Regions from separate parts of the Homo sapiens genome. Here region 2 is reported to be linked to region 1. Evidence: microRNA targets listed by miRTarBase, many of them from high-throughput screens and not tested one by one. Region 1 holds a microRNA gene; the other region holds the end of a gene's coding sequence.

Region 1 (5,073 bases):
ACCTGTGCACACCTTCAACTCCATGTAAAGCACACACAATGCTACCTGTGCATACCTCCAACTCCATGTAAAGCACACACAATGCTACCTGTGCACACCTCCAACTCCATGTAAAGCACACACAATGCTACCTGTGCACACCTCCAACTCCATGTAAAGCACACACAATGCTGCCTGTGCACACCTCCAACTCCATCTAAAGCACACACGATGCTACCTGTGCACACCTCCATCTCCTTCTAAAGCACACACAATGCTACCTGTGCACACCTCCAACTCCATCTAAAGCACACACAATGCTGCCTGTGCACACCTCCAACTCCATCTAAAGCACACACAATGCTACCTGTGCACACCTCCAACTCCATTTAAAGCACACACAGTGCTTTGTGCGCACACCTCCAACTCCATCTAAAGCACACACCATGCTACCTGTGCACACCTCCAACTCCATCTAAAGCACACACAATGCTTTGTGCACACCTCCAACTCCATTTAAAGCACACACAGTGCTTTGTGCGCACACCTCCAACTCCATCTAAAGCACACACAATGCTACCTGTGCACACCTCCATCTCCATCTAAAGTACACACAATGCTACCTGTGCACACCTCCATCTAAAGCACACATAATGCTACCTGTGCACACCTGTAACTCCATCTAAAGCACACACAATGCTACCTGTGTACACCTCCAGCTCCATCTAAAGCACACACGATGCTACCTGTGCTCACCTCCAACTCCATCTAAAGCACACACAATGCTACCTGTGCACACCTCCAACTCCATCCAAAGCACACACAATGCTACCTGTGCACACCTGTAACTCTAAAGCATGCAGAACGTTGCATGTGCACACCTCTAACTTTATTCAGTGTGGTTTCCTTCCCTCTTCAGGACGTTTAAGTAGTTGACTTCATTCAGCTGCAGGCCCAGCCCGCTGTGGGCTCTGACGGAAGGCCCTTTCCTGCAGAAGTGCGGGTGTGTGGGGACGGGTGGGGCTACTGTCTCCATGCCGCTGAAGTGAAGTGAGCTCCAAGTGTAGCCGAGCAGAGAACCCTATGGGGTGGGGTGTGGGACCTCACACACTGCAGGTTCTACCACCACCTCCCCGCGGGTGGCTTGGCTTAGAAGGCCTAGAGGTGGACCTAGAATGCGTACTTTTAGGGGGCTCCCCGGATGACTTCAACAGGCAGCCAGGTGGGGGCCACTGATGGGCAGACACCAAGAAACACCAGGAACACTTCTGCTAAGCGCTGGCCTTGTCCCATTAAGAACCTGTGGCTCCCCTGGGAGGTGTGATCCCGTGCTCCCTGGGAGGTGTGATCCCGTGCTCCCTGGGAGGTGTATCCTGTGCTCCCTGGGAGGTATGATCCTGTGCTCCCTGGGAGGTGTATCCTGTGCTTCCTGGGAGGTGTGATATCGTGGTTCCTGGGAGGTGTGATCCTGTGCTTCCTGGAAGGTGTGATCCTGTGCTTCCTGGGAGGTGTGATATCGTGCTTCCTGGGACGTGTGATGCTGTGCTTCCTGGGAGGTGTGATCCCACACTCGCTGGGAGGTGTGATCCCGTGCTCCCTGGGAGGTCTGATCCCGTGCTTTCCTGGGAGGTGTGATCCCGTGCTCCCTGGGAGGTCTGATCCCATGCCTCCTGGGAGGTGTGATATCATGGTTCCTGGGAGGTATGATATCGTGGTTCCTGGGAGGTGTGATCCCGTGCTCCCTGGGAGGTCTGATCCCGTGCTTCCTGGGAGGTATGATATCATGGTTCCTGGGAGGTATGATATCGTGGTTCCTGGGAGGTGTGATCCCGTGCTTCCTGGGAGGTGTGATCCTGTGCTTCCTGGGAGGTGTGATCCCATGCTTCCTGGGAGGTGTGATCCTGTGCTTCCTGGGAGGTGTGATACCATGCTTCCTGGGAGGTGTGATCCCACGCTCACTGGGAGGTGTGATCTCACACTCGCTGGGAGGTGTGCTATCGTCTTCCCTGGGAGGTGTGATCCTGTTCTTCCTGAGCGGTGTGATCCTGTGCTCCCTGGGGGGTCTGATCCTGTGCTTCCTGGGAGGTGTGATATCATGGTTCCTGGGAGGTGTGATCCCGTGCTTCCTGGGAGGTGTGATATTGTGGTTCCTGGGAGGTGTGATCCCGTGCTCCCTGGGAGGTGTGATCCCGTGCTCCCTGGGAGGTGTGATCCCGTGCTCCCTGGGAGGTGTGATCCCGTGCTCCCTGGGAGGTGTGATCCCGTGCTCCCTGTGAGGTCTGATCCTGTGCTTCCTGGGAGGTGTGATATCGTGGTTCCTGGGAGGTGTGATATCGTGGTTCCTGGGAGGTGTGATCCCGTGCTTCCTGGGAGGTGTGATCCTGTGCTTCCTGGAAGGTGTGATATCGTGGTTCCTGGGAGGTGTGATATCGTGGTTCCTGGGAGGTGTGATATCGTGGTTCCTGGGAGGTGTGATATCGTGGTTCCTGGGAGGTGTGATCTGGTGCTCCCTGGGAGGTGTGATCCCATGCTTCCTGGGAGGTGTGATCCCGTGCTTCCTGGGAGGTGTGATCCTGTGCTTCCTGGGAGGTGTGATACCATGCTTCCTGGGAGGTGTGATCCCACGCTCACTGGGAGGTGTGATCTCACACTCGCTGGGAGGTGTGCTATCGTCTTCCCCGGGAGGTGTGATCCTGTTCTTCCTGAGAGGTGTGATCCTGTGCTCCCTGGGGGGTCTGATCCTGTGCTCCCTGGGAGGTGTGATATCATGGTTCCTGGGAGGTGTGATCCTGTGCTTCCTGGGAGGTGTGATATCGTGGTTCCTGGGAGGTGTGATCCCGTGCTTCCTGGGAGGTGTGATACTGTGCTTCCTGGGAGGTGTGATCCCGTGCTCCCCAGGAGGTCTGATCCCGTGCTTCCTGGGAGGTGTGATATCGTGGTTCCTGGGAGGTGTGATATCGTGGTTCCTGGGAGGTGTGATATCGTGGTTCCTGGGAGGTGTGATATTGTGGTTCCTGGGAGGTGTGATCCCGTGCTTCCTGGGAGGTGTGATCCTGTGCTTCCTGGGAGGTGTGATCCTGTGCTTCCTGGGAGGTGTGATCCTGTGCTTCCTGGGAGGTGTGATATCGTGGTTCCTGGGAGGTGTGATCTGGTGCTCCCTGGGAGGTGTGATCCGGTGCTCCCTGGGAGGTGTGATCCTGTGCTTCCTGGGAGGTGTGATCCTGTGCTTCCTGGGAGGTGTGATATCGTGGTTCCTGGGAGGTGTGATCCGGTGCTCCCTGGGAGGTGTGATCCAGTGCTCCCTGGGAGGTGTGATCCCGTGCTCCCTGGGAGGTGTGATCCCATGCTCCCTGGGAGGTGTGATCCCGTGCTCCCTGGGAGGTGTGATCCCGTGCTCCCTGGGAGGTGTGATCCCGTGCTTCCTGGGAGGTGTGATCCCGTGCTTCCTGGGAGGTGTGATCCCGTGCTTCCTGGGAGGTGTGATCCCGTGCTTCCTGGGAGGTGTGATCCTGTGCTTCCTGGGAGGTGTGATCACATGCCTGCTGGTGATAGAGAGGCACAGCTCCCCATTGGGGAACAACCAGGACCCAGCCCTGGGAGGTGTGGATTCAGGAGGGCCCCAGAGGCCTGCATGAGCTAGTGAGAGCTAGGAGGTGGTGTCCGCACTGGGAGCGGGACCCACACAGAGGGCACGTGGGGTAAGCATCAATGAAGTTCCGGGTGTCAGCCAATTGCACCCTCCCAATGGCCCTGGAGCAGTTGCAAAAGCTTCCTGCTCTCCCATCGTCCCCTTCTCCAACCCACTCCCGAATGCAGACGCCCCTGGCCCTCCTGGGTGGCCAGAGCCTGAGGACACTCACTAGGACAGCCCTGGGCAGCTCAAAGGAGCACTTTGGCCTGGCACAGGCCAGCTCCAGGGATGCCCCCACCTTCCTCCACATGCATGGATCGGGTTTCGTCACCAAGACATCTGCAGGACAGGAGCGGGGCCTCTGGCCACATGGCCAGAGTGCCTCCTCCATTCATGGGTCCCATGTGCAAATGGGCAGACAGGAGCTCTGAGCAGCAGATTCCCCGAGGCCACATGGGGCACTGGTGGCATCTGAGCCTGGGTCGCTGAGGCAGCTGTCCTCAGCCTGGTCTCACCAGGCCACAGCTGTCAGTGGGTAAACGTGTGTGCGCGTGTGTGTGTGCTCCTGCGGCACTGTGGGGGTCATGCCTGTGGCTGAGCATCTCCTGGAATTCTCTCGTCTCACTTTCGACCTCCTCTTCTCAGCAAATCCCATCAACCCCATCTTTGAAACACCTGGAGCCGGAGTGTGACCCACTCTCATGGGTCTGCACCGCCCCCAGCCTGCGTCTGGGTTACTGCCCCGTGTGGCTTCCCTCCCCATCTCTGCTCAGGCCACACCAGCCCCCTCCCACTTCCCCTTCCTCTCCCCACTCCCTCTGGCCTCTGCCCTGCTGTTCCCTCTCCTGCAAAGCCCTTCCTGCCCGCTGGGCTCCAGGCAGAGAGAACCTTCCCAGTGGCCCTGGTCACCCAGGAGAGCACTTCAATCCCCACCCCACACACACTACACACCCCATACACACAGGCACACACACCACACCCACACACACACTATACAGACACAGCACAAACCACACACACAGGCATGCACACTATACACATGCAGCACACACCACACACACAGGCACATTCCCCACAGGCACGCACACATATACCATACACACGCCAGCACACACACCACACAGGCACATGCACAAACACCACCTCCACACACAGGCATACACCACACACACACACACCACACACACCACACACACAGGCACACACACCACATACACAGGCACAGCTCCCCACAGGCACACACACACACCACACAGGCACACCACACACACAGGTACACACACAACACACATACACTTCACATAAACACAAATAGCACATGCAAAATACACCACATAGCACATGCACACACGTGCCATACACACATGCACATCACCCCCCCCACACACACACAACCACACACATGCACATTGTCTCCTCCCCTTTACATTTCCTCAGGTCTCATTCCTCTGGGCACACCTTAC
Region 2 (5,073 bases), not on the chromosome of region 1:
TTGGCAAATGCTCTAAGGGCTTCCTCACCTTTCCGTCATCCCACCTGGGAACCAGCCCTGGGTGGAAGAAACGATGAAGAAGCAGGAGAAAAGGGAGAAATAAGTGAGTTGTGTTTGTGAGCAAAGGCCAATAATTGCTTCAGGTGCCACAGAGCATCTAAACCAGACTCTTGAGAATTTGTGACTGTAAATATGAACGTTCAAATTTCATTTTAAAAGTATCCAAGTTTTCCAATAGAGACAGAATCAGATAGTGGTTGCAAGAGGCGAAGTGGGGGAAGTCACCTGGCTGCAAACACAAGGAACTCAGGAACTTTCTGAGTGGGTACGATGGAAATGTCCTATATCATGATTGTGATGGGTAATAAAAGTATTCATTTGTCAAAATGCATCAATACTCTTAATTGAGGTAAATTTTACTGTAGTTAAAGTATTTCTTAATAAGCCTACCTTTATGGCCAGCCACAGTGGCTCACACCTGTAATCCCAGAACTTTGGGAGGCCAAGGCGGGTTGATCACCTGAGGTCAGGAGTTCAAGACCAGCCTGGCCAACATGGGGAAACCCTGTCTCTACCAAAAATACAGAATTAGCCGGGCGTGGTGGCATGCACTTGTAATCCCAGCTACTTGGGAGGCTGAGGCAGGACAATCACTTGAACCCGGGAGGCGAAGGGTGCAGTGAGCCACCATCATGCCATCACATCCCAGCCTGGGAAAAAAGAGCGAAACTCCATCTCAAAAAAAAAAACCCTACCTTTAAAACATGCATGTAAACTTTCAATTTACAAAGCCACTCACCCTGGGAAAATATAAAGCAAAAATATTAAGCCTAAAGTCCAGTACAATTCCTCAATCACCCTAGAAGCCAGCTATACTCTAGTTCAACTACTTACAGAAGGGCCACATAATAGCCAAAGTAAGAGAAACCTGGAGCCCCCATTCGCCCCTGCTCCCCTCAGCAACACAACGGGCCCAACAATCAGGAGACAGGACGAGGGAGACGTACTGTGAAAATCTTTCTTTTATTACTGTCTCATGTGGCAAAATAACATTTTATACAAATAAGTCACCTAGTTTACTTTGGACACAAAGACAATAAAAACTGGAATGTGATTTTGGGGGAAGCGGGAAGGAGGAGGAAGGACAGATCAGGTCATTGATGTTTCTTATATTCTGTAAAAAATAGATTTACAGGAAAAAAAATAGACTTTCACAACTTCAATGACTTTACACGGTCCTTTGTAAAACCAGTGGTAAATCCACCTCCACCAAATCCTTCTTGAGGCTGATATGTTCTGTGACATGGAATGTGAGTAACACAATGGTTCAATGATTAGGCTCCTACACCAGGTACAGCAGCACCTGATGCCACAGGAATCCTCGTGCACTGGGGTGAGGAGTCAGTCCTGTGAATTTCAGGACACACTGTCCTCATCCCCAGACCTCACTGACATCATAGTGACACTGGCCATCAGAAGAAAGTGACTTTACAGAGGGGAAAAGAGTATCCTGGAAGCGTACCGGTGGGGCAGGACACACTAAGGCAGGACTCACCCAGTTTGTACATTAGACACAGCCTATTAAATCCATTCCAGAAATGAGTTCCACTTCAACTGAAAAAATAAACTGAAGATTGCCCAATCACTGCCATTTCACAAATTTCCAGTTTATGGTCAGCCCCAAAATCACATTCTTCCACCCTATGTATTGGAAATCAAATGGCCCAAAGACTGAGGTGTCTTCAGGAAGCACATGCTTGAAAAATGTTTTCTCTGCAAAACAGTATTGAGTAATACATAAGGAGACATAGCCTACTTTAGCCCAAAACTTCTTTCACTTGTTATGTCCTTTTACCTCTTAAAACATAGAATGAAATAAACTCGGATCTTCTTTGGAGAAGCTAGAAGGGCATTTTGGCCCAAAGGCTGTACAGGAAAAGAGAGGCTCTCTCCAGGAGACTGCAAGGCAAAGGAACAGAAGCAGGAGGGGCAGGCCCTCTGGCACCAGGTGGGCCTGCTACTCTGATGAAATGTGCTCCCAGCTCTTGACAAAGGGCAGGGTCTCCTATGCAGGTAGTTTTTTTGCCGCCTCCCATTGTATCACCCACAAGGTAACTGCTATCAACAGTTCAGATTCCTTAATAACATGGCAGCCTGAATGGTTCTGTTACTTTCAGAGAAAGTATGCCTTGCAATTCTCTCCCCAACTCAGGTACAAACGCTTGAATTTCAAACTCATACTGGTTTACACCCCAGAGTGGAATGCTTCTCAAGATTTCCTGAGCAGCTAGACACAGGAACCCACAGCCCCAGATACAGAACACCAGACTTTCAGAAGCAGCAAAGCCCTGTCCTGCTGGGCATGGACCAAGCACTATCCGCAAATGGTCTCCAGTGAGACTAAGGCAAGCTAACAAGGAAGAGGATACAGCACAACTCAAGCCAGATTGCCCACCTCCTCCTTCCTCCACATCCTCTTTCTAGCAAAAGCGAACACTGCAGATAAGAGATAGCCCACTAATGTAGCAGATACAGTGTGCCCAGGGGCATGTTTCCAAGACACACTCTACTAAGCACAGCTCTGGGCAGCTCCAGAACCACATCCCAGATAATACTCAAATATCAAATAGTAGAAACTGTCCCACCTGGGCCTCTGTCAAAGAGAGAAGGGATTGTTGTTACGCTTGACAGGAACATGCAAATCCCATTTGAGGAGCCACAATGAGAAACAGAAGGTGAGGAGACAGTGCTAACAGCCCTGGCATCTTTCTGCCAGTGAGGAGGTGGGAACAATGGCAATGCAGCTTTCCCCTGCAGCATAAGGGACAGAGCCACACGTAAGGCACCTGGATTTACAGTGGACGCCAGTTCTGAGAGTGGCCGGTCTGGTGATAAGGAACCCACTCCACAGGAGGAATGGTCTCTCCCCTCTCTCGGGGCTGAATCCAAGGCCAGCACACAGGGGTAAGCTAGGACCTTCTCAGTGAGAAAGCTGCCAGCATGTGGCATTGCCAAGACTCTGGCCTGGGACAAAGCACTGGGCCAAGGTTCGGGGCCACTCGCCCTAAAGCCCACACAGGGAGCAGCACTGGTGGTGGATGGACAGGAATTTCTGTGGCCACACACTGTCTCTTCCATCCCTGGCCCCCATACGGCCTTTCTCCCAAGCACATCAGGACACTCTCCTGTCACAGGTACTGTGACACCTCACAGTCACTTACCAGATACCTGGGCCTTTCCTAGTGACATCCTTCTACTGATGCTAACTGGACCCTGGCCACATCAATCGTCTCATCAGAGGGTTTGTGGAGTCTGTCCACTAAGGGTCTGAGGACAAAAGCAGCCCACAGATGTGCAAGTGAACTTTTTTGAGAACACATCACTCTGACAGGCCACATCAGCCTATTTTGCCCTTTCTGAACACCTAAAACAATTCTAACTAGCAGTCTGAAGGCTCAGACTGCATTACGTAACTCTGATCCACCAGGAAAGTTCCAGAAACTACTTCAGTAGAAAGGTAGATAGGAAAACCCTCCTAAACAAGAAATGTACAAAGAGCTTCGGAGGCAAATCCCCATCAAAAGCCAATCCTCCAGGCTGTGCAGTGCAGAGAAAAGTCAAATCTCTCCTTTAGAAAGCTGCTGCTGATTCGTAAGCATATCCTCCCAACATAAGCCAGATTAGCCCCTGGAAGCTGATACTATCAGAAGTCTAACCACATATCACATATGCTGGGAACACCACTGTCATTTTATAAAACCTCCCCGAAAGAAGTCTGGAAATAAAAAAACAAAATACAAGACCTGCTCTGGCCTCAAGAGATACTACTGTTCCATGAGCAGAGCTGACTCATTCTATTTCATGAGACTCAGAAGGGAGGAGCCAGGAGATGTGGAGCAAGCTTGTCTGTCCTCCAAAATGGGAACAGAAGGCACTGCCAGGCTGAAAACTTGGTCTATTCCCAGGAGGGCTGGCTGAGACCCTGGAAGTCAGACAGAGCAGCAGCCTCTCCACAAAGCAGACCCTTCAGCTTGGCAGCATCACCCATTCCTTGGTGCCTCCACTCTTGGCACCTCCCTCCCTCCCCACCCTTTCAAGTGTCTTCCAGTTGGTTTAAGACTTCACACAGACCGAGGGCAGACTGCGCTGATGGCAATGCCGGAGGTGAGAGGAGGAGCTACCTGGAAGAGGCCTACCTTTCAGCTTCCCACAGCACCCAGGAACCTTAAGAGCTGCTGACCTGCTGGTGGGCCTGGCCAGAGCCTTCTCACCAGGCACAGCTATGCCTGGTCGTCAAGACAACCAACAGGCAGCCAGAACTACGGAAAATAAACTTTTTTATCTGGATTCCAGGACCCTTATCCTAACCTTTTACTTTACTATAGTACCTCTGCAACCTACGGGGCAGGAAAAAAAGGGAAGAAAAAATACTGGGGAAGAAAACACAGCACTGTTTGGCAGCTCCTTTGGCGCGCAGGAAACTGCCACCCCAGCCTTGGCTTCCTGGGGCCAGGTTCCAGATGTGTGTTGACAAACTGCAGCTTCGATCATCTCCGTGTGCCAGGATCTTGTGGCCGCGGCAAAGCACCTCCCCTATCTACTCTTGCAGCACTTACTGGCCTCCATTATAGGCATAATCAGCCTTGTTGTGCATTATCAGCTTGTTGTCAACAAAGTAGAAGCTGTCAGAGCGGGTCTCGTAAGGATTTTCAATCATTAGACGAACTGCAAGTCAGGCAAAGGGGGAAGAAAAAAGCAAAGAATTATGTTTGAGTCTGCCCCACAGGGTAGGTGGGAGAAAACTTTGCATCCCCTCCAAAATAAGCCAGCGCTTCAGAGTATACTCTGCCAGAATAACGATGAGGTCAGAACAGAGGGAGGCAGCCCTTGACAGCTGGGGAGACCACAGAGGCCCCCCAGCTGAACATGATCTCCATTTCAACATAAGGATGCAATCAACTCTCCACCATGGCCTCCTCTGTCATCTCCAGCCTGGATTCTTCAGCCAAGATACCAGGGAAATGTGCTCACCCCTCTTCCCAACATGGACCCCACCAACCTATTTACTCAGTG

What was found. Region 1 holds the annotated microRNA hsa-miR-3689d (GGGAGGUGUGAUCUCACACUCG, at 2,612-2,633, shown strand). A microRNA usually pairs through its seed, bases 2 to 8, with sites in the 3' UTR of a target mRNA and lowers its output. Matches are read on the target gene's strand: a 7mer-m8 pairs with bases 2 to 8, a 7mer-A1 pairs with bases 2 to 7 and ends in A, and an 8mer does both.
Region 2: the mRNA of UNC119B is a reported target of hsa-miR-3689d. Seed matches in the 3' UTR shown: 7mer-m8 at 4,161-4,167 and 7mer-m8 at 2,780-2,786.

The regions. Positions count from the first base shown.
Region 1 is chr9:134,847,220-134,852,292 of GRCh38, reverse strand. It overlaps MIR3689D1 (microRNA 3689d-1), which reads left to right and starts at 2,611; the gene lies at 2,611-2,684. MIR3689C (microRNA 3689c) reads left to right here and starts at 2,924; the gene lies at 2,924-2,995. MIR3689A (microRNA 3689a) reads left to right here and starts at 2,729; the gene lies at 2,729-2,806. MIR3689B (microRNA 3689b) reads left to right here and starts at 2,021; the gene lies at 2,021-2,168. It also overlaps MIR3689D2, MIR3689E, MIR3689F and LOC101448202.
Region 2 is chr12:120,719,572-120,724,644 of GRCh38, reverse strand. It overlaps UNC119B (unc-119 lipid binding chaperone B), which reads right to left. Exons shown (of 5, transcript NM_001080533.3): 5 at 1,005-4,725. The coding sequence ends at 4,613. It overlaps MIR4700 (microRNA 4700), which reads right to left and starts at 1,452; the gene lies at 1,379-1,452.